3 separate regions of the Homo sapiens genome follow, and regions 1 and 2 are each linked to region 3. The links come from fine-mapping of genetic effects on gene expression. A gene starts in region 3. Each other region holds a variant in brackets. All regions are shown on one strand. Distances are between the middles of the regions.

Region 1 (10,580 bases), 19 kb before region 3:
TAATGACATAACTTACCAATAGAATATGCTTGCATATGAATACCTACATTGAGGCAGATTCTAAACAATGTAACTACAGTGGTAGTTTAACAGATGCAAAATGTTTAAGTCAGTGTTCTAAACATTTTAAACTTCTTAAGATAAACTAATCAGTAATTTCAAATGTTTTACCCTAGAAAATGTATAATGTAAATTCAATCATATTTATATACTGTTTACACAAAAGTAGTGTCCAATCAAAATGTATTTTAATATATTAGTCTAGAAACTTATGAGAAGAACACCAGATTTAAAATTTAATTTAAATTAATATTTTTTTAAAGGGTCAAGGTTAAACTGTTTGTCTTCCTTAAAAAGTTTATAATGTCTTTTGTGTCTTTACTTACAAAAAAATTCTCAATGAAACTTGGATATTAAAACCTCCCAGGAAACCAACAATAAAAGCTGCTAAGAATTTCACAAGTTTTTTTTCCCCTTAGGTGTTAATTAAATGATCATTTAACACTGAAATGTAAACACAACATTTTCATCTCCTGACAGCACAGCCTATTATAAATCCGGGGTAATAAAAGTCTTGGTGTTAATGCTCTGAACCAAGTTCCCACAACACTCTAAGATGCCTTGTCGTGTCTAAGGTTAAGCATCTAGACACAAAACAAAGCTTGCGCCTACTCGACTTCCAGTCCAATTTTCCCATCGCCCAGTGACCTAGGTAACACTTTGAGCAATAAAGAATAAATTTAATTTCTCCAGCATTTTGTGAGGATTAGGAACAATTGTTGGCTTGCAATGACTTTTTATCCTTGGATTCTTTTTCCTCCAGAGCATTCCTCAGGTCCCAAAAGAGAATTCTGATGGTTTAAGACATAGAACAAACAGAACTTTAAATTAGGCTTTTTTCAATCAATTGGAACTGTCGGAGGGGAAGCAATCAACCTTTCTCTGTGCTGTTCTCAGCTATTCACATACTTCGAGCTTTAATCTTTCACTAGCAGAAGAAACCTATCATGATGGGGCAAAGCTATTTTTTCCAATTCTGTTTCCAGATTTACTTATTTCTCTTTTAAGTTTTTGTTTGTTTGTTTGTTTTGTTTTTAACACTTAAATCAAGTTGCCATACTTTGCTATAAACTTTCATTTGGGGGATGTTTCAAGAGACACAGATGTTCTCTTAATAACATTTCACACCTCTATGCTGTACCCTAGGCCATAGGTGTTGTCAAGGACTGGTCTTTTTACTCTTCACTGCTTCCTTCTCTAAGATTTAGTTTCTTTTAAAACTTCCATCCAAAGGTTTCTTATATCAAAATTTATAAAATATTTTAAGGTTAACCCTCCAGAAAAAATTCAGTGATTATAATCAACTCAGTTATAGGTAACATGTAATGAGTGGATATACACCATATAGATCTATGCTACTTTGAGAAGTACTGGAATTGTGGAAAAAAGAACAAAACAAAACGACTTCTGGTTCAAACTTGTCTCATAATGTAACATTATTTAGATTTAAAGTGCTAAAAGATTTGCAATTTTTACTGGATTTTGACATAATTAGTAGTCTAAAAATACACTTAAAATCACCTATGCAATTTATATAAAGATGACAATGTTCCATAGATCAAATCATATGTACATATTACAAAGCTAACAGAGTAATCTTATATTATTTTAAAAAATAAAATTTTTATTAGTAGTGAAAGTGTTCCTTAGCAACATATGTAAATCTTCTGAACAACTTTCAGAATACTTTACCTATAGTTTAAGGAGTTTACTCAGCATTTTCTAACATTTGTATTTTTCCTTCATTTGTCATTCAGAAAAACACATCATTAAAACAGCAATCTAAATATATGCACTAACAAATAGTTCCTGAGTCACAGTCTTTTTGTTTCTATCTGTAATTTATTTTATAGATGAATTTTAAAACTATATGAATCATCAACTGGGAGAGCATGAAGAGATCTCATTAAGAATATCCTGGCCCTAATGTACCTTCTGCAGCCAAGTAAAGAGAAATAACATGGTACAAATGCACATTTTATGTCAATTTGCTGTGGTAAGATAATTAATGTGACTACACATATTTACGTGTTACTACAGTAAGGATAAATGCAAGAGGGCTGTGCAATAGTATCAGGAACTTTGCTGACTGAGGGCAAGTTGCAAGGACATCTGAGTGACTATCATTTCCATCTTGCTTGCAATGAAAGGATGACAATAATATAATTATAGTTTCTATCATACTTGAAAATTTACAATGTTCCTTTGAATATGGAATCTAAATTTTACTGTGCTATCCCCAGAAAGTAAATTGTATGATCCTTCCCATTTTACAGATAAGAAACCTCAACAATACGGTTGTCTACTGACTTCCAAAGTTAACAGAACTGCAAGTATCTGAGTAGGCATTTAAACACTATCATTTTACACAACCTCCCTTAAGATAGAAAGTAAATTGATTTCAGTGTCTTAAAACATAAAGCAAATACATTAAAATTACCTAAATATAACTAAAACCCTACCAACCCTTATTCCTAGAAATAATGTTTATGTAAATTTCAGTCCCCAAAATTGTAACCTTGAGATTGTAGTGGCAATTTCATTATTTAAAAACTTTAAAATATTACCTGATTATGTGTATACGATATATTTTTTACATGAATATGATAGACTGAAATTCACATATTTGATCACTCTCAATGAACTCTCTAGGCATTAATTCACGCAGTATAGGTCAGACGTTAGCAACAGCTGAGGCCCACAAATACCACATATTATATAGAGCCACATATTTTGTTAGTTTCCCTTCTGAGCATTGATCATAGTATTCTACAAATTCAAGTTGGCAGTCCATAAGTACTTGTTGGTGGAGTTAGAAACATTTGCACTTGTGAAAGCAGTCGTTTAAATAAGTACAGCTGAGTGAAAAAAAAAAAAACACAGAAACTTTCTTGCATTCTTGCATTTGATTTTCTTATGCTATGAGCTATGCTGTGGATTTCACACTCAGAAGGTCCACTCTGTGTGTTGGTAACAGCAGAAACCGGACAACTGTTAGCTTTCTTTAGCAACAAGTCTATTAGTAATTCCTTTGAAGTAAAAACCATCAACACTAGATCTGGCAAAATCTCAAATATGATCTTAATCTTCATTGGATTTAGGACGTTTAAATCACAGGATTACACGTTGATTTAAAAAATAAAAGTAGAAGTAGGTCCTGCTCAGGGCTTTGCACTTTTCTTTCTTTCATGACAAGTGGTAATGGCTATTTTGAGTTGTGTTCAGATGTCCATATATCAAGTCTGTTGCCTATCTATTTGAAAATAAAGTTTTGGTTAAATAGTGGTAATTTTTTTAAATGCAATACTCCTTGTATGCCTCTATTTTTTAAGTGGCAAAAACATAGTCCCTTGGGCCCAATAAGTAATTAAAAAGTTACCTTAGTAATGAAGGACTTGGTGTTTTAATCACTGAAAGTGAACACTTTTCTAAGTTTTCTCTCTCGATACAGAGTCAATCTGTTCCCCTTAGCAAAGTATCAGTATATAATTCAGATAGTGTTTCCTTACACCAAATTAGAACACAGACGCCACCTTCGACGGAACTTTCACCCTTAGCACATGAAGCTCTTTGGCAGTCTCAGCAACAGAAATCAGCGGTAGCTATCATGGCAGCGCGCTAGATGAGTAATGATGTCGGTCTGGCTGAACAACAGTAACCGTAGCAACTGTAACCTGCAATTCCTGCACAATCACAGTCGGATTTATTGTGGCAGGGGCCAAACAGGCCAAGAGTAAAATGAAGCAGGAAACGATGGCACCTGACATCTCTAGTAGTCCACACTTTAATCAGAGCTGGCAGAAATTAATTCAAGAGAAATTTGTACATGGGCTCCTCTGTTGTATCCTGCTTTCATGGTTGACTCCAAGAAACCTATGAGACTAAACTGACATCCAAGAACTAGGGAGTTCGTTTTATAAAACATTTTATTAAATTAAGGTATATTTTGCTTAGGTGAAAAATGGATCATTTTGATTGTGTTATGTCTACTGAAACACTTCAATGTTTGAGAAACCTAGGGGAATCAAACATTTAATTGACCAAGTTATCCTTTAAATTTAATTTGGTTCTCCATTATTTATAATGCCGTCCCAGAGTTACTATTTGCTCATTCAAGTTACAAACCCTGAACCCAACAGAGATTTAATTCAATACATCAAACACTTGATGAGAGCTTCTAAAGGTCAAGCCTTATACTAGACCCTGGGGACATTAAAAAAAAGTTTTCATAATACACGTCTAAGTAGCACTTATATGTATAATCATAAAAATAATTCTAAGATAATAATTGATAAGTATAATAATGGCTATATCTGCGTAGTGAGATAATAGATAATTTTTACTTCCTATTTTCTATTTTTTTCTGAATTTCCTAGATCTTTTTTACAATGAGCATGTGTTACTCTTATAACTATTAAAAAAAAATAAGTCTCCTTCTATGGCAGTGATGGAAAGGAAAATAAAGACAGCTTAATTATATATATTTGTTATGCTGAACAAATTAATTGATTACCTTAATAAAAAAAATTAAGTTTTCCTCTTAAGAAAGTCCCAATTATTATAGTTATCAAAAGCAATTTTGAGAATCTGAAATCCTATCTGAGAGATAATGAATTATGACCTGGCCAATGAAATTAAGCAGTCAAAACCTATTTGTCTCAGGTAAGTATTCACTAGGCCATAAAGAGAGTCTTTGGCCTTAAAAATACCATTCCTAATGTTAGATAATTTAGTCGCTCCAAAACTCACTGGGGAATCATGAATGGCACTTGAGAACCAGAAGTAAAAAGTTTTCATTCAAAGAAGTAGAGAAAATGAGTCCCTGGGACAGATGCAGTTCTTTTTGTTTGTTTGTTTAGTTTTGGTTTGGTTTGGCAGATAAAAGTGAAAAATGAGTTTCTAAAAAGTGCTTTGGATACTTAAGCTTACGTTAGAAGTCTCAGTAAATATAATATACTCAAAGAAATAAACCGAAAACCACAAAACAAATATTTATAACCAAATGCCTAAC[C/T]GCAGTACTACCAATGAAATTCCTCTTTAATGAGTCCAGATTAGTAGTCGCAAACTCATCAAAAAGTGTGAATCACTTACTCTTAAGCCTCTTTTAAGGTTACACTTATCAGGAAGATTTGTATTAGTACTCATAAATTTCAATCAATCATAATCAACTGTTTCAAAATTCCCTGCAATCTCTTCTTCAGTTAACCAGCTCCAGATTTCTTTAAAAATAATTTCCTCTACTCTTAGGTTCATAATAAAAATGCAACCTTGATTTTGGAGGAGGAGCAAAGGGGAAGATAGAGTCTATAAGTTAAGAAAACTTCATGCTGGCTTATTTTTTTTTTTTTTAACCTCCAACCTATCGTCCCTTATTTTAGTTTCCCTGGACTTGCACTTTCCATCTGTCAACAAGTGCTTGTAATTTTATTACACTGTCCTGTAGTTTATGCAGAGTTGGTATTATTTTACAGAGTTCTGTTAATGGACTGGATAAATGGTAATGCTATTTAAACTAGTCTCCTACTCCAACAAACACAGCTGCAACTGTACTACTATTTCTGAGCAAACATCTTGACCTGAACATGTAGTGCTCTCTCAACCCGTCCAAAGAGAAATTGGAGCAGACAGCAAAGGAAAAGCATATTTGGCCGCTAGCAGCAACCAAGTGTGTCGAATCATAATTCATATACAGTATACCCTCCTTTTCTTTTATATTGCATTTAGAGTCCATGAAAAGCATGTGTGCTTCTTCCCCTGGCATCTTATTTTCAACCACTAGTCAAAGGGCGATTATTTATTCCAAAGCTCAAAGAAAAGCAACACAATGTCCAGTATATCCAACTAGCTTTAATCTAAGCAAACAATGCGAAAAATCAAACTTCAGTGTATAAACTATGTATTAAACCAGTAAACTTTTTTATTAGTGATATACCTGGGAAAACATAGTGTTAAGTATGAATAAAGTATACAATAACTAAGAAAAGAAATTGAAACATTAATTCGTATCTCGGAACAACCTATACAGAGGAAGTAAATCCTAAATTTGTTTTTTTATGAGTTCTGCATATAGTATGCCTCTACTGCATTAGACAGTAGGGGCAACTATGGCTTGCTATATATATATATATAATATATAAATATAAATTATATATAAATATTATATATAAATTAATTATATATTATATTACATATAAATATATACTATGTATAATAATTATATATTATATAAATGTCAAAACATATATTCTATAAATATATATTTATAGAATACTTATATATTGTTTTACACATATTTATAAAACGATCATATATATATCAACTATCAAATACTTTCCTTGTCCTATCATTTTTCCCCATTATTTGTCAAAAATTCCATATCCTTTGTTCTGTCACTTGTTCTTCTTGTGAAAAAAATATGTTTTTAAATGAGCATTATAAAGGATGTTGTGCATATAGGTTTGTGCACATTTTCCCATCTGCTAGAATATTTGTTTCAGGTGAGCTACTTGGCATCTGTATCATGTGAGAAAATGTGAACTTGTACCCTTGCTTTTCATAATTACACTAGCCAGTAGTGAGCTTCACAAGCACGTGTTCCTTTGTTTATTAAAGACTTCCAATGGCAGTTGTTTAATTTAATTAATTATCACCATCATAAACAAGTGGTCACATGCAGCTTATAACTTATTCTCTCGAGAGAAAAAGCACTCAACAATTCACCTAAGTCTAATTCAGATGAAGCAACAGTTCCTTAACTCAAATTAAGATTCCTGACGTGAGGATGCAAATAAAAATTCCACCTCTAGTTTTCTATGTACATCCAGTGCCTAAATCTGATGTCAAATCTCATGTAAAGGGATACACTTTGTCAATATTGAGTGCTAGGCCATCAAGTTATATAACTCCTGAAACATAAAAATATTCACATCCCTCTTGTAACTAGCTCCACCTAACAAACACTGCTTTAGCTGTTATTACTCCCCAGGACAAATCCTTTGAGCCAGAAAGACACATAAAAAAATCTGAACACATTTTCTAGCTGCCTGTTTCCCCATTTTCCAACACGCATTTAATTAATTAGGAAATGCTGTCATAGGTTTTATGGATTCTGTTTCTTTAATTCACTTAAAGATTTCAAGTCTTTTTTCATACAGCAGCTGCATACAGTTATAAAATCATAACAAAACATAAAAGAAAATCTCTTGGTCTGCTATGAGATATTGTCAAAGATGGCAAAATGTCAAGGAGAATATAATTTGCTGATGAGGGATTCTGCAATGGATTATACCACCTTAAACTGGGGGAAATTAATCCAAGTCGATTCCTTAAAAATCTCCTCAGTCACCAATAACTAAAGGTGAAAGTGAAATACTATCAAAACCAATTCTATGGCCCTTTTTAGAAACTAAGCACAAATATTTAGATATAATTATCTACTGATATGCATACCTATAATCTTTATAGCAAACCTACACCCTATTTCCTAAGTAAAAATAGTTATTAGATAATTTTTGTTAAAAATGCAATTCCAAGGTTTCTTCATTTTATTTTTAAAATTTACTTAAATTGGTCCAATTGAGCAGCAGGGAACACAAAAAAGAAGAGAAAAATGTCAGGTGATTTTAGCTATCCTTAGAGGAACAAAGTCAGGAAAGACTCTGGAGAGATCTGGTATGTCAGCTGGGGAATATCTCCCTATAGTAAGTTAAGGTTGTTAAGGTTTCAGGAGGATGTAACAAAGATCCTGGCTATTCTTGGGGGTGAAGGGTGTGAGAGGACAGTCCTCCTACTTCTGGAATTGATAACCACATTGAACTAGTAGGCTACAAAGACAAGTTCAGAAAAAGGAACTATGCTCACTTTCTCTACAAACAGTACCATATGGGACACCCACCATCCAGGTGGGGGCTAATGGAGCAATTTACTCTATACATTCCAGCAGTTTTTTTCACAACATGCATATACCTCAATAATCATTGCTATTTATTTTTCCAAAACTTTGTAGCTTATCTCCCATCTGCACAAAGTCATTTCATATGGCTGAAAATCTCATTTTAAATGCTTTCAAAATGTGTTTTCACTATTACACATTAGGTCAGTGCAAAAGCATTCCAGGGAGGAAAAAGTGATTCCCCCTAATACTCACATTATGCTCCTTTAAGGAATTACTTCCTTTAATAGTCTATGACGTATTTGATATGAAAACCTTGCCATACAGTCATTCATATTGCAGAGGCTGAAATTGTGGCTTTAAAGGAAACATTTAAGAGGAAATTTACAGCCCTCTTTAAATACCTTATAATAATATTTCGGACTAATAAACACGACTACTTGAGCCCAGAAACAATACCAAAAAAGCTGACATTAAAAATCTCAACTTTATAAGAACACACTGCCAACTTCCTCTTAAGAGGAAACAGTAGCAATTTTCTCCCTTCAGAACTTAATCAAACATTTCCATTAAAAGGTAGGTAAATCTCGCCATCATCACGTTACCAAAAAAATAATAATAATCCAATTTCCATAACACATACATAAACCGCTAAATCCTAACCAAATAAAACAACTGGAACCACTAGAAAACAAATCATAAATTTCCTAAAGAAAAAACACAAACTTTTAATCCATTAATCTATTGATGAACAGATTCCAGGAAAGCACACACAAACAGATCCAAAATACATTTAATAAAACACAAGGTACTACCCAAAGCAACAATAACTATTTGTGTCTACTTACAGCCTGTATAGCTTCGCAGTCCCAAGAAACAGCAACTCAGGAAACAGCTGAAGGTGATTTCTGTTTAAACGCCTTTTGAGAAAACAAAAACAAAGCTTATGTTACATAGAAAATACCCAACAATGAGACTGTGATTTGGTAGTGTCATGCCTCATCCTGTATTTCAGAAAAGAATGAAATGACATTCAGGAGAATTCAAGCATTGCAAATCAAAAGTTGGTTACACCTTTTGTTACATGACTCTTTACAGCAGTTTTCCATTGTGCTTACTAAGATGATGATTACTGGGGTCTAAACTTTAAACTGAAATCCTGTGCAACATCAGTCAACCAGAATACACACAATGATAAAGGATTTTTGTGATTCAGTCTTAGGCGCCTAAGGTAGGTGACTTCAATATCCAGCAGAAATACCACAGTGAATGGTGTCTAAAATAATCCATACACAGTCCCAATTGGCCTAAAAGTTCAGCCAAGGAATTGTGGGGAGATGGAAATTTCAACTTTCTTAGCTTTTCATTTAGTTGGGAGGAAAAAAAAAAAAGGTGTGAGAAATTGTCAGCATGATTTGTCCCATAGGCAAAATCAGGAGAATACCAACCCAGAGTTCAAACCTCAACCCACAGCTTCCAACCCTTAACTGAATTTAAGGCTCAGCATTATAACTAACAGTTGTGTCAAATCAGTTTCAGTAATGTTTTAAAATGTCTAAGTAAATTGGAATGTTTTAAATGTTTTAGAAAAGAGTGTGATTGCAACTGTAACTCAATTTAAGCCCTGATGCTTGGTATGCACACCTATTAAAGAAAGAGTGGGTAAATACTATCTGTGATGTAGTCATATCCCAATCCCATCTGTTTTCAGTGTACAATTTAACATTTAATTTAAAATAACTGTCTATTTCTCTGCTTTTCCCAAATCTAAATAAAACGATAAAGAGCTGATGTAACATTTTGCACTCAAATGACTTACAAGCTGCCTAGCTCGAGAGGAGTAGAGGCATATTATATAGTATAGTTTCTGGATATAGTTCCAGAAGGTAATGTCACACTGAGGAAACCAGAGGTATTTCTTAAGTTTTAAAGATAAATAGTAAAAGGGACAGGAAAAGAGGGCATATCAATCTTGACATATTGCAAGGGTCATCGGGTAGATGCAGAATTATACTTATTTAGTCTCCAGAGGGCAGAAATGGGCCCCTTGATTGTAACTCCTAAGAAATTTGATTATACAGAAGACCTTTCTAAGAATTAGCTATTAAGAAATGGAAACTCTCAACTGCTTATCTCAAAATGTATTCAAGCAGAGGCTATGAATTTTTTTTGGAAAATGATATAATTTTTTAAAATCCTGTAAGTGAGAAGCGAGACCAGGTAAACTTCAGAACTTCTTTCCATTCTAAAAAATGCCATGAAGCAATGATGGCACCATAACTTTATGTGAACTCAGAAAGAAGTTGATCATCTACAGAAACATTCTCAGGCCTTAATAAAATGCATACTAATAAAAAAAAGTATGCCAAGACAAGTAGAGGCAAATAGTAAAATTAGTGGTAAAGGAGTGAATTTACTTCCCACTTACACGCTAATTTTTTAAATGAAGCACATAACAAGGTAAAATTTAAAGTCAAATCAAAAGCTTTCATTTATTTGTTCTCTGTTAGGTATGATTCTGAAGACAGTGTACTTCCAGAGTCTAGCATTATACAATTTCAATGAAATGCAGATTGTTACTTTGTTGTATTTCCCTCTAAAAATATATTACACATATTTGCAACAGTGG
Region 2 (10,580 bases), 120 kb after region 3:
TAGTAACTAAGTGCCACAACCACTTGGTCTCCCAAGGCCTTCATTGCATCTGCACTTCATCTTATGCCACCGCCAGTGATTATTTGACTAATCATGATGTCACAGCATGCCAGAGATTATCAGTATCCCTTTCTTAAAGTAAAAAAGCTATCCGTGAGCACCTCAAATATGGTAGCTACCCAACCCCAGACACCTATTTTAAGGGCATTTCCTGGGACCACTTATTTGGTCTCAGTCAATTACTGAGTCACTTAAGATCCTGACAGGAAACAGATGGTACACTCCAATGGACCAATTAGGGAGAATTTAATAAAGGACTATTTATAGAGGTGTGAGTAGGGATAAGAGAAACCTAAAAGAGATGCTAAAGCACTATGCAGCTAGTAAAGGCTGGAAGCTTTTATCAGTCCTAAGTATGAACTCTACTTTCCTTCTACCTCTCATCTTCTGGTACCTCCCACAGGACAAACTCAGCCAGGACAACCCCACCCAGAGGTCAAGAGGTACAGTGTAGGGATCCCATAAAGAGCAGCATTCTTCGGACATGTAGAGGGTGGGAGGAGGATACAGAGTTGTCAAAAAGTTCAAACCATATGTCTCCGCAAGTTTCAACATGTACATTACGTCTTATTTGACATCGTCGATTGGAGGTCTTTAAGACATCTCAGATTCAATGTATTAAAAAGTATATCCAATGTCACAAACCTAAATCCAGTCTACTTGCTGTTAAAAAACAAAGTGGGCCTGAAAGCAAGAAAGCTAAAAGTAACCTTTAATACCACTCAGACTTGGGTCTCCCAATTTACTGCCTATTTTTGTTTCCTTAATTTTTTATTTCTCCCTGTCATTATTATAACACTTCCAAACAATAGTTATTTATTTTTGTCATGGATAAAAACACACTTATTGTTACTTTTAAAAATTATACATGTTATTTTGAAGTGTAACATAGATACAGAAAAGTACATAAATCATAAATATACAGCTCAGTAAACCATAACAAAGTGAACAATCATGTAAGACCAATTGGTAAAAAAATAAAACATTGTGGATATACTAACAGCCTCCCTTGGACTCCTTTTGACCATTCCCCTTTTCTTTCTCCCCTAAAGGAGACCTCCTGACCACTAACACTAAACAATAGTTTAAGTTTGTCAGGAAAACTTCTTTTATAACACCTTTATTGAGATATAATTCATTTACTTTAGAATATTTTCATTAACCTCAAAAGAAACTCTGTATCCATTTGTAGTCACTTCCTATTTTTTCCCAGACCCCACCTTTAAGCCATAGGCAACCAACAATCTACTTTCACTGTACATTTGTTCATTCTGGGCACCTCATAAAAAAAAATCACATAGAATGTGTTTTTGTGATTGGCTTGTTTCACTTAGCATGATCTTTCAAAGGTTTATTCAAGTTTTTCCAGTACTTCACTACTTCCTATTGCTTAATGATATGACATTGTATAGACATACCCCATTTTATTTATTCATTTAACTGTTGATGGATATCTACGTAATTTCCACTTTGATTTTGTTGTGAATAATGCTGCCATCAACATTTGTGTACAGGTTTTTGTGTGTGTGTGTGTGTGTGTAGCACAATTATTATTTAAATTGCATTATATCAAAAGAATAATTCAACAGACAATCATTCCAATCATTTAACATGCAATCATTTTGTGGAGAAAATGCTGGTCCTACAAAAATGCCCTTAACATATAACCTTAACATTAACCTTAACATATAAGGTTAATATGTTACCTTACATGGCAAAAGGGACTTTGCAAATGTGACTAAAGCTATGGACTTTGAAGTGGGAAGATTATCCTGGATTATCAGAATGGGACTAATGTAACCTAATTTAATTTCTCAATTTTCTTAATTTGTTTCTCTAGCCCTACCCTGTATTGACTTCTTATACTCTATGTTCAAAGGTGACAACTCTTCATGAGATGCATCAACTGTGTTCCTCGAACTCAGGCAGGTTGTTGAAGATCACAAGGTACTAGTGGTATAAGAGGATGGGAGGAGAGTAAAGTTAAATCATTTATTCCTCTGGCTCCTTTCCTTTCTGGCTATGGGTTTGCAGTGGTTTTGTTTTTCTCTGGCCTTCTCCTGAACCATTTGTTGAAAAGACTGCTCTTTCCCCCATTGAATTATTGTATTCAAAATATTTGAATAAAACTTTAACTCTGTAGAAAATCAACTGTCCATAAATAGAAGAATTTATTTCTGGGCTTTCAATTCATTTCCATGTATTCATATATCTATCCAGCACTACACTTTCTTGATTGCCAGAGCCTTGACATCAAGAAGTATGTGTCCTTCAAGAAGTACGCATCCTTCAAGTTTTTCTTTTTCAAGATTATGTTGGCTACTCTGAATCCCTTGCATTTCCATATGAATTTTACAATCTGTTTGCATTTTCTGCAAGGACATCAGAAGGAATTTTTATAAGGATTGCACTGAATCTTTGGATCAATTTTGGGAATATTGTCATTTTAAGAATAGTCTTCTGGGACTGTCTTTTCATTTATTTGGGCCTTCTTTAATTTCTAACACTAATGTTTTCTAGTACTCAAGGTACAAGTCTTGAACTTATTTTGCTAAATGTATTCCTAAGTATTTTATTATGATTGGCATGATTGCAAATAGAACTTTTTTAAAAATTTTATTGTTCATTACTAAGGTATAAAAACACAATTGAGTTATGTGTAGTAATCTTGTATTCTGCAAACTGGATGTGCTGATTTTTTTTTTAATTCTAGTGACATCTTTGTGGATTCCGTAGGATTTTCTCTATAAAAGTAATTGTCGTCTACAAGGAGAGATATACTTCTTCCTTTCTTTCTAATATTGATGCTTTTCTTTTCCTCCTCCTCCTTCTCCTCCTCCTCCTCCTCTTTCTTCTTCTTCTCCTTCTTCTTCCTTCTTCTTCTCCTCCTTCTCCTTCATCTTCTCCTCCTCCTTCTTCTTCTTCCTCTCCTCCTCCTTCTCCTTCTTCTTCCTTTCCTCCTCCTTCTTCTTCCTCCTTCTTCTCCTTCTTCTTCTCCTCCTCCTTCTCCTTCTTCTTCCTCTCCGCCTCCTCCTTCTTCTTCCTCCTTCTTCTCCTTCTTCTTCTTTCTTCTTCTTCTCCTTTCTTTCTTCTTCTTCCTCCTCTCTTTTTATTTCTCTCCCTTTTCCTTCTCCCCTCCAGCTCTGCCTTTCCTCTTATTTGTCCTGGATAGAATCATCAGTATAACGTTAAATAGAAGTGCTGAGAGTGGTGGACATATCTTTCTCATTCCTGATGTTAAGGTGAAAATTTTAAGTTCTTTCTGATTAATTATGTTGTTAGCTCCGGAGTTTTTGTACACCAACTTTTTAGTAAGTGTGGGAGTACCTTCTATTAATGGTTTGTTGAGTATTTTTATCATAAAAGACAAATATTATCAACGTTTTTCTGTGTTTATTGAGATGATTATATAATTTTTATTCTTTATTCTATGAATGAGGTATATTATACAAATTATTTGATGCAACCTTGCATTCCAGGGATAAATCCCACCTGGTCATGGCACGTAATATTTTTTAATATGTTGCCAGACTTGATTTGCTAGTATTTAGTTTTTCTATGTGTATATTCATAAATAATATTGGTTTGTATTTTTTTGTGATATCATTGGATGGTCATGGTGCCAGGGTAATACTGGCCTCATATAATACATTGAAAAATTATTCCTCCTATTTTTTGGAAAGAGTTTGTGATGAATTGATGTTAATTCTTCTTTAAATATTGGGTAGAATTCCCCAGTATAACCATCTGAGTCTAGGTTTTTTTCTTTGTTGAAGGTTTAAAAATTATAATTCAAAGTATTTGCTTGCTGTAAGTCTATACAAATTATTTATTTCTTCCTTAGTCAATTTTGTTAGTTTGTGTCTTTCTAGGAATTTTCCATTTTGTCTATCTAATTTGTAGACATCCTTTACTGTTTACCTATTTGTATCTTTATATTTAAAATGGGATTCTTGGGGATAAATATATACTATATAAAAATAAAAAAATACACAATTGAGTGTTGCTTTTATATTTAACCTGAAATACTCTGCCTTTTAAATGGGGTGTTCAGTCCCTTATATTTAATGTGATGATTAAATTTGATTGTAAACTTATTCCTCATTTTCCATACGTTTTCTTTTGTTATGCATGTTATGCTTCTTTTCTTATTTTATATAGTTTATTTTGTATGATTCAATTTTATTTGTGCTTTATTAGCTTTAAATATTCATTGATTTATTTTAGTATTTGTTCTAGGGTTTATAGCTTACACCTTTAGCTTACAGTTTATAAACCGTGAACTATATTTTGGAGTTTTCATTCAAGTGATACTATACCACTTCACATACAGTATAAGAATCTTACAATAGTGTTCTTCCATTTATTTTCTCCTGGTCTTCACACTACTCTTGCCACACATTTTATATCGTCATATGATATAAACCTCACAATGCATTGATATTCACTTTACATTAAAAAGCCATGTAACTTTAAAACATCTTTAAGTGTTTAAAATAAATCTCATTTAAATATAACCACATAATCACTATATCTGGGTCTCTCTGGTCCTTTGTAAAAATCTATATTTCCATCTGATCAAAACTGTGTCAGCCTGAAGGAAGTCCTTTCACATTTTACATAGTTAGATACTACTAGTTATAACTAAGTTGTAGCTG[C/T]TAGTTATATATAAATCATCAGCTTTTGTAGGTGATTAAAAAATTTTGGAATAGCAATTTTGTTTTTATGACATTGTAAACAGTATTTTATATTTTATTTTTTATTTCTTTGTTGATGTGTAAAAACAATTAAATTTTATATCATCCTTGTATACTGCAAACATTATGAATTCTTATATATGTCCTAATACATTTTTAAAAATCCATTACATTTTCTATATACATGTTTATATCATATGTGAACTAAAACAGTCTTTCTTCTTACCTTCCATTTTTTTGTTGTTTAATTTCTTTATTTCATCAGGCATGGACTCCAGTACTGTGCAAACTACATGGGATGAATATGTATATTTTGCCTATTCCTGATCTTTAAAATGAAATAGTATTTTTCCATTCACTACAACAATTGCTATAGGCATTTCATAGATGCTCTTTATGAGATTAAGTAAATTCCCTTCTAGTCTTATTTGAGAGAGATTAAATCTGTAATGATGTTAAGTTCTGTCAAATCATTTTTCTACTCATCATCATATGGTTTTCAAAACTAATAAGATTTGCTTTATGAAAGTAGCATTTAATTAATCTAATGAATGTTCCATGCGCACTTGTGAAGAATGTGTCACCCAAATTTGGGTACAGTGTTTTTTAAACATAATTTATATCAAATTAAAATCTTCTGAATTGTAACTGATTTTCTTTTGTCTAATTATATCCTCAGTTACTGAGAAATGACTGTCAAGATAGTCCATAAATGATTATAATCACTTATAATCCACAAGTAGTTGTGGATTTGTCTATTTCTCTGTTTAGTTATGGTCAATTTTTGTATCAAGTACTCTGAAGCTCTGTAATTAGGTGGATATTCACTAAAAATGTTACATTGTTTTGATGATTAATAGTTTTATTATTGTGAAATATACTTCTTTATCTTTGGTAATATTACTTGTATTTAATATACTTTGTCTAAGATTAATATAACCATATATACTATCTTATTGATATGGACGTGAGAGGGAAATATTGAGTATAAGAGGGCAGTTCCCCAGCAAAGACTCCACCCTCAAGCCTGAAGACCTGCGGCCTTAAATGAGGACAGGCATTTCTGTTTTTGCTACCAAAAAGTTGCCTTTTGGCCTGCGTGCCCCCTATGCTGCCCTAATGTAAACTGCAAACTCCAAGTTCCAGATGAGACCCACAAGTGAGGAGAGGAAGAGGCAAGCAGACCAGCAGACCGGTGGACCAGCAGACCAGCTACAGGGGAATGATGCAGCTCTACTCCAGGGGAAGACCACCTTCCCACTCCATCCTCACTTCCCGCTCCCCATCCATCTCACTGAGAGCCACCTCCGCCACTCAGTAAAACCTTGCACTCATCCTTCAAGCCCTGATTCTTTCAGGACACTAGCAAGAGCTCGGGATACAGAGGACTGTCACACTGGACCCCTTCCCTTGCAATAAGGCAGAAGGTACATTGAGCTGATTAACACACAAGCCATCTGCAGACAGCAAAGCTAAAGGAGCACACTGTAACACACACCCACTTGGGCTTTGGGAGTCGCAGACACCCACCTCTATACACTGCCGTGGGGCTGGAGCCCAAAAGCACTTACCCTGGTCCCTGCACATGCCTGTCTGTGTGCTCCCCTTCCTGTAGAGGTTTAAGCTGTGGGGGCAAACACAGGTGAGCCACACTCCTGTCGCATGTTCTGAGAGGGGAAGCAGGGAACTCTCCCATTTCATTATGATGAGGATGTGCATGATATATCTGTTTCTATCCTTTTACTTTTAGACTGTTTAAGTCTTCATATGTAAAGTGCATCTTTTTAGACATTATGCAATTGCTTGTTTTTATTCTTTTTAATAGTAACTTATAAGATTGTTATCTCTGCCTTTTAATGAATGTATTTTATCCATTTACCATAGAGATAAATTTTGGCACAGTTAGGTTTAATTTTATCATCTTGCTATTTATATCCTAGAGGGTGATAACTTTATCAACTAGAATATGATGCTTATGTATGGGTTATAAAAATTGTTATTATGCAGATTGCATTCATTTCTAAAGTTACTTAGGTCAGCACCTGAGTAACAATGTATGATCGTTTCATACATTTGTAATATAGTTTGGTTTTTTTTGTTATTACATTCTATAGTCTTCCAGGGACTGTCTAGCTTCTTCAATGATACTTTTCTAAATTTGCATATACTCTTTGTACTACAAAGTTTTATGTGTTTGACAAATGCATTGTGTCACTATTACAACCTTGTCTGAATTATTTTTCGTTTTCAGTTTATTCTGGCTTTTAACTTTTTAGTTATGATATTTGTATATATTCATATATATATATTTTATTTATATAAAATTTATGTATTTAGCTATTTTACTTTTATTAGTTCTAGCAATCATAATGTGCATTATTAACTTATCACTATTTATTGTCAGTTAACATAATGGCAATTCACAAATAAAGTGAGAACTTGTGACAGGATAATTCTATTTATTTCTCCATTCTTCGTCTTGTTACTTTCATGTATCTTACTTCTCTGTGTTATAAACTACACAATATATTTTTTAACTTTAAAAGCCAACAGTCTATCTAAAATCTTATTTTAAAAAGTATTTATATTTTCCCACATATTAACCACTATTGTTTTTCCTTATTCTAGACATTAGTTTTCATTTGCAATTTACTTCAGCCTAAAAGCCTTCCTTTAGCATTTGTTGCAGTGTTGGTTTACTGGAAGTGAATCATATCTACTTATTTTTATCTGAATATTTCTTTCTTCCATCCTCATTTTGAAGTATATTTTCACTAGGTATGGAATTCTAAGTTGATCTTTCAACACTTTAAAAGATGTTGTTCCCTTGCCGTCTGGTTCCCCCCGCTCTGTATGCACTGTGTCTTATTTATCTGGTAGCTGCTTTTAGACTTTTTATATTTGTTTTCCAAAGTTTGACTATGATGTACCTAGGTATGAACTTCTTTGTTCTGATTTTCCTTTGTGTTTCCTTAGGCTTTGGGTCTGTAAGTTAAGGTTTTGGGTCAAATTTTGCAAGTTTTTCGTCATTATTTCTTCAAATAGTTTTCTTGCTCATTCTTTATGTTCTCACTTTCTAGAACTCAAATTACATACATGTATGTTTGCTAATGTAATATTTTTTAAAAAATAAATCTTATCCTTTGTTCATTTTCCCCCAATCTTATATTCTTCATGTACTTTTATTTGGATAATTACTATTAATCTCTTTTTATGTTTACCAATTATTCCTTCTGCCTTGTTCATTTGTTTCTAAAACAAACTAATTCATTTTTGTTTCCTATGTTGTTCTTTTCAGTTAGAAATATCAATTTGATTTTCTATTATCTATTTGATATCTCTTCTAAATATTTCATATCCGCAGCCATTCTTTCCATCTTACAGTAAACATTTAACATTTCTATAATAGTTTTCTTAAAATCTTTGATGACTAATTACATGATCTGAAGTATCTGCGATTTTGCTTCTATTGATTAATTTTGCCGTTAGTTATAGGCCATATTTTCCTACTTCTTCATAATCCCTTCACATGACCACATGGCATACAGTATATCTAAAGGAAAAATGGATATTAAATTTTTATCTCTCCATCTCTATCTCCTACAGTTTGAAAGCCCTTTCTTTCATCAGGTACCTAAGGTGAAGAGTTGCCCTATTAGATTTTACCAAGAACTAGCTTGAAGTTTTAATTATATTGTGTTCACCATTGATTTCCAATGGGATTGTGGAGATTGCACTTTACCCTTTAGCCCTACCCTCAGCTTTCAGAGCAGTAGCCACAGAGGGTCTAATCCCTCGATCTTTTCAGGATTTGAGCTAGGAGTGGTTTGGGTTCTAGATTTAGTTGTTTTTGGCTCACTTGTATATTCTCCTTCAGCAGAGCCCTTGAATCTGAACAAACTGAGTGAGACTATGCAAACACTGTTTTCCAGCCCATATCCATTGCTAATACTGCTGCTTTCTCTGGTATTCTTCATCAAAATTTCTAGCTGAAGGAATTGCCAAGATGAAATATTTACTTTTGTATTTGGGTCTCTCACATATTTTTAATCTATCTTTCTAGCCATACTGACATGAAAAGCTCATTTGTTTTTTCTTTGTCATTGTAAAGTCTCCCTGTCTAAGGTGGGCCTCTCATGGGCACAGCCACACTCACAAGAGACACTTGTCCCTAGTTCTTGAAGATCTGCACTTCTTTGTCCACCTATAGAGAATTTTTTAATGGAGTCTTGCCCTGTTGCCCATCACAGCTCACTGCAACCTCAGCCTCCTGGGTTCAAGTGATTATCCTGCCTTGGCCTCCTGAGTAGCTGGGATTACAGGTGCCCACCATTACATCCAGCAGATTTTTTGTATTTTTATTAGAGATGGGGTTTCACCATGTTGGCCAGGCTGGTCTCGAACTCCTGACCTCAAGTGATCTGCCTGCCCCAGCTTCCCAAAGTGCTGGGATTATAGACGTGAGCCACCATGCCTAGCCTCTTTGTCTGCCTATAGATGTTTCATCTCTTTTTGGCCTTAACTTATTACAGATTCTTTGAATCAACTGCTCTACAATAGATTTACAGGAAAGTATGCTATTTTGTTAGTTTTTTTCCTTGTTGTTAACACAGGTCCTATGGTCTTCCACGTTCTACTACATCTTAATCAGAAGTGAAACTTTCCACCATTGCTTATTGCCTGTGTTTCCCCAATAATCTAATTTGTCTTATTTTTTTCTTCCCTTCCTTCCACAAAGCAATCCATTTACAAAAGAACAATCAAAGTCATCTTCAAAAGTAGCATAAAACAGTTTTTTTCCCTTGTGAATAAAATGCATTATTTTCATATGTGAATCATAAGGCAATCTTTCTCTGGAATTCTTCAACCAAATGCCTCTTTGTAATGACATTTTCTTTAGTCATTAGTTTATCTCCCAAAGTAGCTCAGATCTGTAGGCAGCAGATTTAAATCTAGCTAGTGGACTTTATGCTTCAATTGTTTGAAAGTTGATGTATTAGAAAACTTTGGGCTGCTATAATACAATTTCATGGATTACGTGGCTTAAACACAGTTCTAGAAGCTAGAAGTCCACCATCAAGGTGCCAACAAATTTGATTTCTGGTAAAGACTCACTTTCTGGCTTGTGAATTTTCACTTTATTACTTTGTCCTCACATGGCATTTCCTTTGTACTCATGCAGCGAGAGCTCTGGTGGCCCTGGCCTTTCTTCTTCTTATAAGGGCACTAATCCTATTGAATTAGGGTCCCATTGTATGACTTCATTTAACCTTAATAACTTCTATAAAGGCCCTATCTCCAAATACAGTCACATTGGAGGTTGGCACTTTTACATATAAATTTTGAGGGGATACAATTCTGTCCATAACAGTTGGCACTTATATTATGTTCAAAATGTAAATGTATATTTTATTTTTATCTGTGTATTTTAAAGGACTTTTGCATGACTTGTGCCTGCCTGGTCAACCAAGTACCTAAAGGCTTGGCCATGCTCCACTCCCTAAATTAGTCAGTTCTGTATCATCCCACAAAGAAAAAGTCTGAATGCTTTTTCTGCAAACAATCTGAAGCAACAGGATGAGCACTCAAGGTATCTCATTACACTCACATGTAATTCACATGGAATTAAGTGAGGCAAGGCAGATCTTGTGATCTCTAGATGGTAGGGATGAATCAACGCATCCCTTTCTGCTATTGGTGTATGTGAAAGTTGCCTGGGATGATGAGAAACTCCAACCCTTAATACATCCCTTTACTGAGTCCCTCCACTTGCTTTCCACTGTGTCTCTGTGGATGGAAGGTGGTCTTCAGCCTTACTTGTAC
Region 3 (10,580 bases):
TAACGCAAATAAAAGTACCACCTTTCTTCCTACATGAGCAAATAAAACAAATCAAATGAAGAATAAGAAATGCTTGTACATCTTTAAGTACCAAAGCAATGATTATCAAGGAAATACATGTCTCAGGAAAGTAACTGTATTTTTGAGCTTAATTACAAGTTAGAACTTTTTATTCAGGAACTCTATTTGTCATAAATTAACCTGAAAACCACTCATTCATCCTCCTTTTTCTGCAAAATTTCAAACCCTAAGACATGAAATTGAAGACATGATGCTTGAAATTTAAGTATTTTTAAAAAACACAGTTATGTTGTCATAACTTTGGAATTGAAAATACTTACAGTCTCTCTAGTTCTTTAAGATCCTGGAATGCTCCTCTTTCAATGGTGCTAATCTTATTCTCCATAAGCTGACTGAAATGCAAAATATAACATGCTTCTTAATGTTACCACTCACCATCTGAATAAATTTCAATTCAGCAACTGAAAACTTGTAAACTCTTTCCCTTTATAAAGTTAAATTGTGCTCTGATTTGAGATCCAATATCAAATTTAATAATAATATATCTGAGTGAACTCATGGAAGGGAAATAGCAGTGTCTGCATCACAAAACTTAATACAAATGCAGTTTCTCATGAGATTTACTGGTCAAAACTCTGACCCTTAAACTAATAGTATATCTGAAGAGTAATCCTTGACACTGAAGCTTTGATAGCTTTCTTTGATACACTGGTTTTCAACTTAACCAAAGAATCAAAATACAGTAATTCATCATATACATACTTCAATTCTGACATGGATACACATCAGCAACTGGAATAATTTGTAATGACCAAAATGTGTCTCTTAAAACTTAGAACACTGAATGCACAATGGTCAAAACTGTATGGCTACTGGGATGTCAATATTTACAATCCTGTGGGTGAGAACAATTTAACATTACATTGACTCGCAAGTGGTGGTTTACTCACAGCTAATTTAACCCACTAATTAAAGAAGTAATCATATTGCAACAATTTTATAGAAGCTACAAAGACACAAAATATAAAAACTCAAAATATGACTAATGTATCATTATAAACTCTGCTGAAAATTTGAATGGTTGATTTTAATGCTTGATATTAGATTTTCGCAAAAAAATAAGAATCCTTTTGTTATCAATAATAAAATACAGATCCACTTAAATATTTTAGTTAATTTCAAATCCTAAAAGTATCAAATGTTTCTTATTACTTATTCATTTTGTGAAAACAATTATTCAACATTTTTATATGCATAAAGCGCTTAGGGTATGGTATAACAAAGATCTGAGGTCATTTCTGGATTATTGGTTCTATGGCATGCTTCCAACCTTAAAATAAAAGCCCCAATTTTTATTAAATGTTGTAGTACAATGATAAACACAGAAAAAAGGAAAGCATGACCTTTTAAATGTTTTATGTTACTGTCATCAGAATAGTCATAAAAACTGAGGCCAGTAATGATTCAAAATATGCAACCTTAAAAAATTATTTAAAAATACAGAGGATGCACTTACAGAACTCTTAGATGTCTAAGACCAGCAAAATCTGTCTTCGTAATTCTTGTGATGTTATTTCCATTTAAATCCCTAAGAGAAAAACCAGAAAGTGAAAGTTCCATTTTATTTCTATGTTTACCTGCTTCAAGTAAAGTTTAGAGTAAATCAGAACTAAAAGTTAATTCAATTACTAAAGTAGTATACAAAGTATGTAGGAAGGAGAAGAGGATAACCTTTAAAAGGATATTTTTAACATGACTCAACACATTTACAAGGTTCATTCTTGCTGGCATATGACAAGAAAATGAAGTGGTTACATTATCACAAAAAAGTTTTCGTTTGTTTTGTGTATGGGAGAGTCCTTTCCATTTTTGTTTCTGTAAGGATTGTATATTAATTTCACAGGTATTCTGCTATTTTACTATAATTGTTAGGCACCCCCCCCAAAAAAAAAGTTCCCTTCAGGAGGTTAAATGCCCAATTTTCTCATGCTATTCAGGAAGAAATTTTATAAAAATTCAGAACACTGTCCTTAGGTAGCATGGTGGCGAAACTTCCTAAGGCACAGAAAAAAATTAGTGCCATCAAAACAACTGCACTTCAAAGACTTGCATTCATAGGCATTTACCTTCCAACAATTCTGTTTGTATTAAAACTTAATTCTTCATTTGCAGCTCAGGGAACCCCGCTGTGATTGTAAAGTGAAAACTACTAACAGGGGCAAGAATGGAAATAGTATTCAGGCCCTGACATTTTTGTTCAGATTTCTGCAGCACTTTTCCTTCAGGAGTCACGATCTCCTTTTCTGGCATTTCAGGTCAAGATCTAAACTTGCCCTGGTTCCAATCACTTCAAGTAAAACCAGGCTTTGCTGCGGTTTGAATGCTCTTCATAGAAGTAAGCTCTATATCACCTTTGACTCTACAACATCATGTTTGAAATCTGTATTCAAACTGTTTCAATGATAGAATTTTACAAGTCAGCACCCAGTAAACTATTTTCTGGAAACTTTTTGTTCATCCCTCATAAGGATGTATATTTTTTCAAGGACCTGAAATTCAATTGCTACGCTCCCCCCTCACCCCCACCCACCCAAGTGCATTCCCTTTTTGTTGAGTAAGACATGTTCGTGCTTAAACTTTAAACTGTTCTGAATAGCATGAAATGACAAGTGCTAAAACAGAATTCTGCGTGGCTTCTCTTCCTTTCTACTCAACCCACTTCTCCATGCTAAGCAGAGTACCATTCAGTTGTTCCTAAAATTGTTGGGCTATTCGATATAACACGAATCTCCACCCACCACCCTACACAAATGTGGATCGAATCCTGACAAGGCACCCCTAGTAGAGCCCCGATTTGGCCAGCTCGGAGAGGTGAGAAAGGAGTAAGGGTAACCTAGTGAGGCTGGGGGTAGAAGAGCCATTTGCAAAGCAAAAGGTGGCTCAACTTGGGCCTTAAAACTAAGGGCGAGAGAAATGGGTTGGATAAGAAGGGCGACTTGAAGTGCAATGGGCTGCGCGGGTGGAGACGTGCGGGTCAGAGCGCCTCCTCTCCACGGCCCGAAACCCTTACACCCCGGGGGCAAAGAGGCCGCGGGACGAATCCAGACGCGCTGGCCCCTGCCGGCCTAGCCCCGCGCCCTTCGCTTACTCCCGGCCCACACGCAACCGCGAGAGCGGAACGTGCCTAGGGCGGCCGGACTGGCGCGGGGCGGCGGCCTCGGCGTTCACAAAGAGAACGGCCTCCATGCTCCACTTCGCTGAACTCTGGAAGCGCCTCATCAGGAGCGCGTGGGCCGTCAACACCGGGTCTGCATTTACTTCTTCATTAGAGACTCGCAAAGACAGGGAGGCGGGGACGTCTGCGAGCAACGGAGCGCGAAGAGGGGAAGGCAGGGGAACTGCTGCCACGTGAAGGGGCGCAGAAACTGCCAGAAAGGTGGATGGGGACGCAGGGGTTCAGCAGGAAGGGCCGGAGGGGGCAGCCGGGCACCGCCGGGTCGCCGCAGTGGTAAGACCTGGTTGGGCTGGTTTGCGCTGGAGAACCAGTGCTAACTTCGCTTAACGGATGGGACACGGTCCTCCCTCGCAGTCGCCCGCTGAGACAAGTCCCTAGGGGCCTGACGCCGTCTTCCCCTCCCCGGAGAAGTGGGGGGCGGGGGGCTGCGCGAGGCTACTATGCGAGGTGTCGCCGTCCTGGGGCACCCTTCTCCCCGCGACCTGTGAGAAGCACCCCCAGGCACTCCATGACCCCTTCTTCCTAACCTTCGCCCCCAGGAGGGTGACAAAAAATCGGGGAAGGCAAGTTTCTCTCTTTTGAGTCTCCCTGCTATCCCCTCCGCGCCAGCCTGCGACAAGAGCGAGGACTGGGCTCTGAAACCGACCTGGATGCTGGCAATCGCAAGGTGACTCCGTTTATGGACTCTGGAGAACAAAGTGGCGTCTCACTTGCCCCGGGCATCCTCCAGTACTTGTCCCCTATCTACCCGCTCCCCAGCCCCAGAGAACTAGCCAGCAAGGAGCTGCGAGTGGCGGGACGAGAGCAGGGGAGGGAGAACTAGCGCAGCTGCCAGCGGACCCGCCCCTCCTTGGACAGAGGCCCTTCCCTGGCCAGTGCCCTCCCGGAGAGCTCAACCCCAGGATGTGCATGGGGGAGAGCTAGCGAGGGCTGCCCCAGGCACAGGACCCTGAGCTGACAGGTTCCTCCAGTGGAGGCAGGGGTGCGCGGCCCGGATGGGGAGAGGGGAAGACGAAGAGCGCATACTCACAGTCTCTCGGTGTTGCGGGGGATATTCCTGGGCACGCTGCGCAGCGCCAGCCCGTGACAGTCCACTGTGCTGCCCGAGCAAGAGCACTGCGCCGGGCACGCCTGCGGTGCCACCTTGTTCAGGATCGCCAGCACTAACCCCAGCGACAGGGACAGCATCTGCCAGCCAACGCCGCGCATCTTTCCCCGCCGCCTCCTTCCTCGCCGGCACTGGGGGCTTTCTTTAGCTTGCTGCTCCGAGGGAACCGCGCAGTGTCTGAGGCCCAGTGCCCGGCGGGGCTAGCAACCCAGAGTGCCAGGGAAAATGTGCACCAAATAATATGGAACAAGGCAGTAGAGCCCACTCAGGCACACGCCTCCCACCGCCCTCTCCACCCTCCTCTGGCAGAGCAGGAGCTCCTTGGGCAACTTTAGGTCCTGAGGATGAATCCGCCTGGCCAGGGCTGCAAGGAGACCCCAAGAGCAGCGGAGAGGAGATCACGCGTCTTCTGTCTCCCAAGGATGAACTTGGCGGTAAAAGAGCTGGGGCTTCCAACGGCTGCTAAGATGCAGGGGCCGGTTGTTGTGGGGAGGGCGGTCCTCTGATCCCACGCACGCTTCTGCAAATCCGATGCCAGTGGCGAAGGTACAAGACAGAAGAGGGGATCTCAATAGGTATTATGGCCCCGATCAAAGTGGGCTCCGGAAGCTAGAAGGCGCGGAAGCCCAGCGGGCCCGTAGCAGAGCGCGCGGGGCAACTGGGCATGGCGCGCGGGGGTGCACGGGGCGGACGCGCAGTTCTGGGGGCGCACGGCTCTGGACTCTGCTCACTCACGCGGCCTCTCCCTCGCCCTCGACTCCGCCGCAGCCTGGACCGGTCCTCGCGGTCTCCCGACAGCCAACGATGGTTTACAAACACACATGCACTTCGCTGAAGGATGTCTGGGCAATCCCGCCTCCCGCTCGGCGTCCTTGGCGACGCTCTGCACCAGGACCTGCCCCGAGGTCACGCAGAAAAGACAAAAGGGCAGTCGGGCCGCCGCAGCCGGGCAGAAATATCCACTAGTCAGCACTCCGGCGAGGAACTCCAAGAGGCCAAGTGGAGGATGAGAGCTGCTGCGAAGACTGAGTGGGGACTGACTGGGGGCGGACTTAAAAACCAGGCAGACCGGAAGGAGTGGAAAGGCAAAGGCCAAGGTTGGAGGTGTCAGCGTCCTGCTGGGGCGTACTGGAGAATGGCTCGGTGGCAGGTGGGCGGGTGGGATCCACTACTCCAGGCAGAGCCAGGCGGCAGCTGAATGGCAGTAGTGTGTGCGCGCGTGTCAACCCCGCTCGTCTCCCAGATAAGCCGCAGCTCCGCGGCAGACACCTGATGGCAAAGGTAGAAGAAACAAGAGCCGGGTTCCGGAGGGCGCAGAGCCACGGCCGGCCCCCGGCGGTCTCCCACTAGTGGTTCGTCCTTCTCAAAGTGCAGCAACTTTTCCCAGGCTTTGAATTCCGTCCCCCAAGGCCACAGTGGCGGTACCCCTGCCGGCGTGGCGACGCCGCCCGGCTCCTGGCGCTGCACCTGACGCGGCGGCCGCAGTCCCGGGTAGTCCTTCTCCTTCTAGCCCCTTCCCCTCTCCCGCTGCTTTCCTGGCCTCCCGCTCCAGGGAGCGAGGTCGGGGAGAGGGAGGGCGACGACTCAGAGCGGGGACTCGGTGGCTCTGCCGACTCCGGAGCCCCTGGCAAGTGTCTAAACAATAGGACGGACGCAGCAGCCCAAGTCTCGCTTGTCTGGAAGGAAGGTGGGTTGTTGTCGTAACTGGAGTTGTTCGCTGGGGCTGACTGGCGCTCAGCGTAGCCAAACAAAAACCCGGCCCGCGCCTCCGGAGCCGGCTGCGGGCCCCCGGCGCTCCCCTTTCTGCTCAGCACTCCCGCCGTGCCCAGAAAGCGCGGCAGCTTCGGCCTGCGCCTGGGCGCTTCGGCGCTCCCATGCCTCGCAGCTGCCTCCGCCTCCGCCGCCGCCGCCGCCGCCGCCTTCTTTTTTTTAACCACAGTCTGCGGCAGCCACCACCACCGCCGCCGCCAAGCTCCGCCGTCCGGGCGCTTCCCAAATAAATAACACCAAGTCCGAAGTTGAGCCGGCGCGGGCCTTATATAGCCGCCCGAGCCTCCGCCCCCTGACCCCGCCCCTCGAGGCCCAGGCCCGCCCCCTGGCTCCGCTCTGGGAGCCCGCACCTCGCTGGGGAGAGGGGAGAGGTGAGGCCGGGGCTGCCAGCGCTGGGCGGAGGCGGCGGCTGGCGGCGCGCGTTCCCGTGCGCCCTGGCTCGCCCCCTCGCTCCCACGCGCGGGCAAACTTGGCCCGAAGAAGGAGCCACCCGAGCCCCAGCCCCCAACTCCTTGGCCCCAGAGGTGACCTGGGCTCGGAGATAGTCGTTTGCAGTGGGAGAATGGGAAGAGGTCGGCTTTGAACGCGGCTCATAAATAAACAGCCCTGCCAGTGCCTCTCCTGCAGCTTTTGCCACGCGATCCTTAAGGGGGCTGCTCACTCTTTGCAGCGCAGCAAGAGACAGAGAGACAGAAACAGAGAAATTATGATTTAAATTTAAGAAAAATCCTACCGAAATAGATCTGCCTGCGCTTACAGACACACACGTGTATTTTGGGGAGCTGAAAAGTTCAGTTTTTGCAAGTTGGAAAACAGCATTTTCCAACCTTCTTGCTTGCCTTTCTATCTCCAAGCCACCCCCTTCCGTTTAACCCTTCCTTTGTAGACACACACTGAACCACACCGTGGTCAGTTGATGTCTTGGATATTCAATAGGCTCACAAAACTCTTAAGGGCTTGAACGTATCTGTGTGATTTTTTACTCTCTTATGAGAGAAAGGAGGGGAAAAAATAAATCCCTAGCAACGCACATTATACCAGAAGGTTTTCTTTATTTCAGGGCAGTTCTGGATATTTTTTTCCCCGCTATGTTTTGAAAGAGAATTTCCTTGTTTCATCTTGTCTCTTTAGTGTGACGTATGTCTGGCAACGGCTGCCTCTCTCGCCCCCCTTTCCCCCCCAGCAAGAGCCAATGTCACTGTAAGTTTGAAATGACATCTAAATGACTCTGCTCCTTCTCTTGGATTTAATATGCATCATATTGTTGTTCTTCCTCCCATTTCCACGTTAAGAAGCTTTCCCTGGAATTTGTGCAAGCCCCCGCCTAATACCAGCCTCATATTGTAGTAGTTATTTGTATAATTATTAGAAGCTTCCTTGAAAGCAAGACCTGTCCAACTCTTTGTATTTCCAGCATCTATGCCTGCCACATAATAGGTTTCCTCATAAGTAACCGATTTCTTTAACTCAAGAGTATGCTCAACCTAAAATCTCTGCAATATCCTCATTAACGTTTTTCCTGGTTAACATTTTCTAAGATGTCCTTTCATAATGGCTACCCCTACTTACCTCATTTTGCCTGCCTTGGAAAACGTAAGCCTTTTCGAGGACACGCCCAAAGGCAGGGTACCATCTGATAACTGAATTGGAACTCTTAGGATTACTCATTTTAATGCCACAGATTTATATTGCTCTATTCTTTTAAAACCTTCAAAAACATTTGACATTTATTAACTCATTTGTCCTTCTAGATTTTAGCTTAAAGGTCTGTTATGTAACTTCCTTGAGGAGGAGAAAAAAGAAGCCCTTGTCACATTTTCTTGTAAGGAAAATGAGATAAAGAACAAGTACCTGTCATTGAGGAAGGAGCTCCCCCAACCCTCAGTGAATTTTCCTTAGTGTGTACCAGTAAATTATGTGGTTAAATATGGTTGCTGATACATTAATTTATTTAATTTCACAACTTTAATATCTTGTCAGCAACAAGAGGTGTTTGTGTTCAACTTTGTGCACCACATAGAATTGTTGTTCCATATTTTAATTCCAAGAACATATCCTGCATTCCAAATATTTATAAATAATATTATTGATATTGTTGCATAAGTGAAATTCACAGACATAAGTTCAAGTTTCATTCTATCTCTGATCACTTTCTGTTTTGTGTAAAACCAAGGAGAAACTAACATACATAGCAACATGCCTACAGAAACATCTTTTTAAAATTTGAAGCCAATTTAAATAAGAAGCTATGTTCAGTGGATTTCATTCAGAAAAAAGAAAGACTGTAATTAATTCTTGAGAGGCATATCTTACTATTTTTTGCGTTATTAACTTTTTAGTTGATAAGGGGAATTTTATACATACATAAACAACCAGGTCTCCTGTCCTTTAACATATTACTGTATTATTCCATTAGTATTACTGCAGGATGTTTGTTGAAGGCCTTGCAGGCTTCAGAAACATTAACTTCTAGGTCTTAATTCTTTATGGATTATTTTGCTCCCATATGAATTTCTGAGTTTCTCTTTCACTGTTAAACCCAGCCTGAAGAAAGCCTTCTGTGGTGCCTCTTGTCACCACATGAGGTCTCCATAAATCCTGACCTGGATTAAGCAGAAGTGGAATCCACTATAGCCAATATCCGAGTCTCCTATTATCTTGCAAAAAAAAAAAAAAAATCCAGTTCGTACAATAATTTGGAAACAATGTAGACAATCACCTATGCAGCAAAGAAATAAAAAGCATCAGAATAATGTGTAGGTTATTAAATGTCTAATAAACTTTGCATTTTTTTGAAATAAAAAGGTTGTGAAGTTGGGTTATATGGGAAAAGGGAGGAAGAAAAGAGAATTTACGAAAAAGAGATAAAGAAGAGTAAAAATTATTGTTCTCTGTCTTTTTAAACAGAGGTAGGTAACAGTAATTGCATTGATCAAATTCATGAAACTTAATTCCTTGAATTTAACTGCCTTCATGTTACTATTTTCCATTGTTGCAATGTGTTCATTTTAATTATTTGATATTTCTTTCATTTAAATTATCTGATATTTCTCACAATATCTTTGTATTGGAAACGTAGACATGGAACCCTAATATAATGGAAATTAAGATTTAACCAAAATTTGTTTCAAGCCTACTAAATTCCAAGCTATTTGACAGAGTTACATCCACAGTGATGGTTGCTATTTCACTCCTTACAGTAGAGGATGTTGGTCTTCATGCAAGTCGCAGCTTATTAAATGGCAGAGCTAGAACCAGAACCTAAGTTCTCTGACCTCAATTCTCAATTGATTCTTCTTCACCCAACTGTTTATCTGTAGATCCACTGGAACTCGTGGGGATCAAGGAATCTATAGATCCTCAGGAATGATCACCCTCATACAGGAGATGGTCATGTCTCTGCACACACTCCTTAAGGGCATCTACAGGGAGCAGTAAAGAGCTAGAGTCCTCAGCACCAGCACTTCAAGGATACTGAAACCTGACCTGCTTCTGGACATAGCTTTGACTTTGAGATGATTCTCTAGGTGAGTGGTTCTCAGCATGTGGTCCCTGGACCAACAGCATCGTAATCGCCAGGACTGTAGTTGGAGATACAACTTCTCAGGCCCTAACTCAAACCCACAAAATCAGAAAATCTGGGAACAGAAGCCAGAAGGCTGTGTTCTCACAAGCCCTCCAAGAGATTTTGATGTTCACTAAAATTTGAGATCCATTACTCAAGAGCTGCTCTGTGTTTGTATCTGTGACACATTGGTACGGAGAATGAAGCAGCAAAGAATAATAGATAACAGCTGCTGAATTGTCTTCAGCTTCTCATTCCTGGGGGTTGACAATTGCACATTACTGATTACCTCTAGGGGGCACCAAAATATTTTGATGTACAGCTCCGCAGAGGCAATAAGACTTTAGTTTTATTTTCCAAGGAAATGGCCTTCAGAAGTGGAAAGGGCTTCCTAGTTATTACATCAGCAACCTGCCCGAATATGCCTCAACCCTTTAAAAAAATCTGTTATATTTATAGGGATTTTTTCCAGTTTAATACCACTTTTGTATGGATGCATTGATTCCTATTTCTCATGATTATTGTGAAAATTAAGATATTATTTTTCAATCTAACAGCACAGGGCCTGGCATAGAGCTAGGTGCTTATTAAATAAAGGGTATTTCATTATTACTTTTAATATCTGAAATTTTCTAAAATATTATATTTGTATTATGAGAATAGATAACATATTCCTTTAGTTATTACTATGATCCAATAACTTCTTGTATTGAGTCCTGGGAAGGGCTGGGCTGAGGGTGATACTTTACAAGAAGAACAAATCAACTTACAATAATCAAGCCCTGCTCAGACCTACAGTATCCCATGAACAAAAGAGTGGCGATAGATATAATTAGTTTTGTGCTATGTGTGTCACATAATATAAACTAATCTTTGAAGAG

Which allele goes with the higher level. Positions count from the first base shown, and alleles are read on the strand shown. Sizes are in standard deviations (SD) of each study's normalised expression. Not every link is listed here.
For the expression in esophagus mucosa of the gene that starts at base 6,376 in region 3, T is the high allele of the variant in region 2 and C is the other (moderate effect, 0.40 SD a copy in GTEx).

Evidence for each region. PIP is the estimated chance that this variant, and not a neighbour inherited with it, causes the effect.
Region 1: its variant is fine-mapped to the expression of SLIT2 in nasal epithelium (TOPMed, PIP above 0.99).
Region 2: its variant is fine-mapped to the expression of SLIT2 in esophagus mucosa (GTEx, PIP 0.97).

What each region holds. Positions count from the first base shown.
Region 1 is chr4:20,267,101-20,277,680 of GRCh38, reverse strand. It overlaps SLIT2 (slit guidance ligand 2), which reads right to left. Exons shown (of 37, transcript NM_004787.4): 4 at 8,800-8,871. Among named protein-coding and RNA genes, the nearest start is that of SLIT2, 20 kb to the right of the region's middle. The variant C/T (reference allele first, on the strand shown) is at 5,072.
Region 2 is chr4:20,126,873-20,137,452 of GRCh38, reverse strand. No RefSeq gene overlaps it. Among named protein-coding and RNA genes, the nearest start is that of SLIT2, 120 kb to the left of the region's middle. The variant C/T (reference allele first, on the strand shown) is at 4,719.
Region 3 is chr4:20,247,701-20,258,280 of GRCh38, reverse strand. SLIT2 (slit guidance ligand 2) reads right to left here and starts at 6,376. Exons shown (of 37, transcript NM_004787.4): 1 at 4,287-6,376; 2 at 1,538-1,609; 3 at 342-413. The coding sequence starts at 4,465. RefSeq lists enhancers at 3,663-4,461, 4,462-5,260.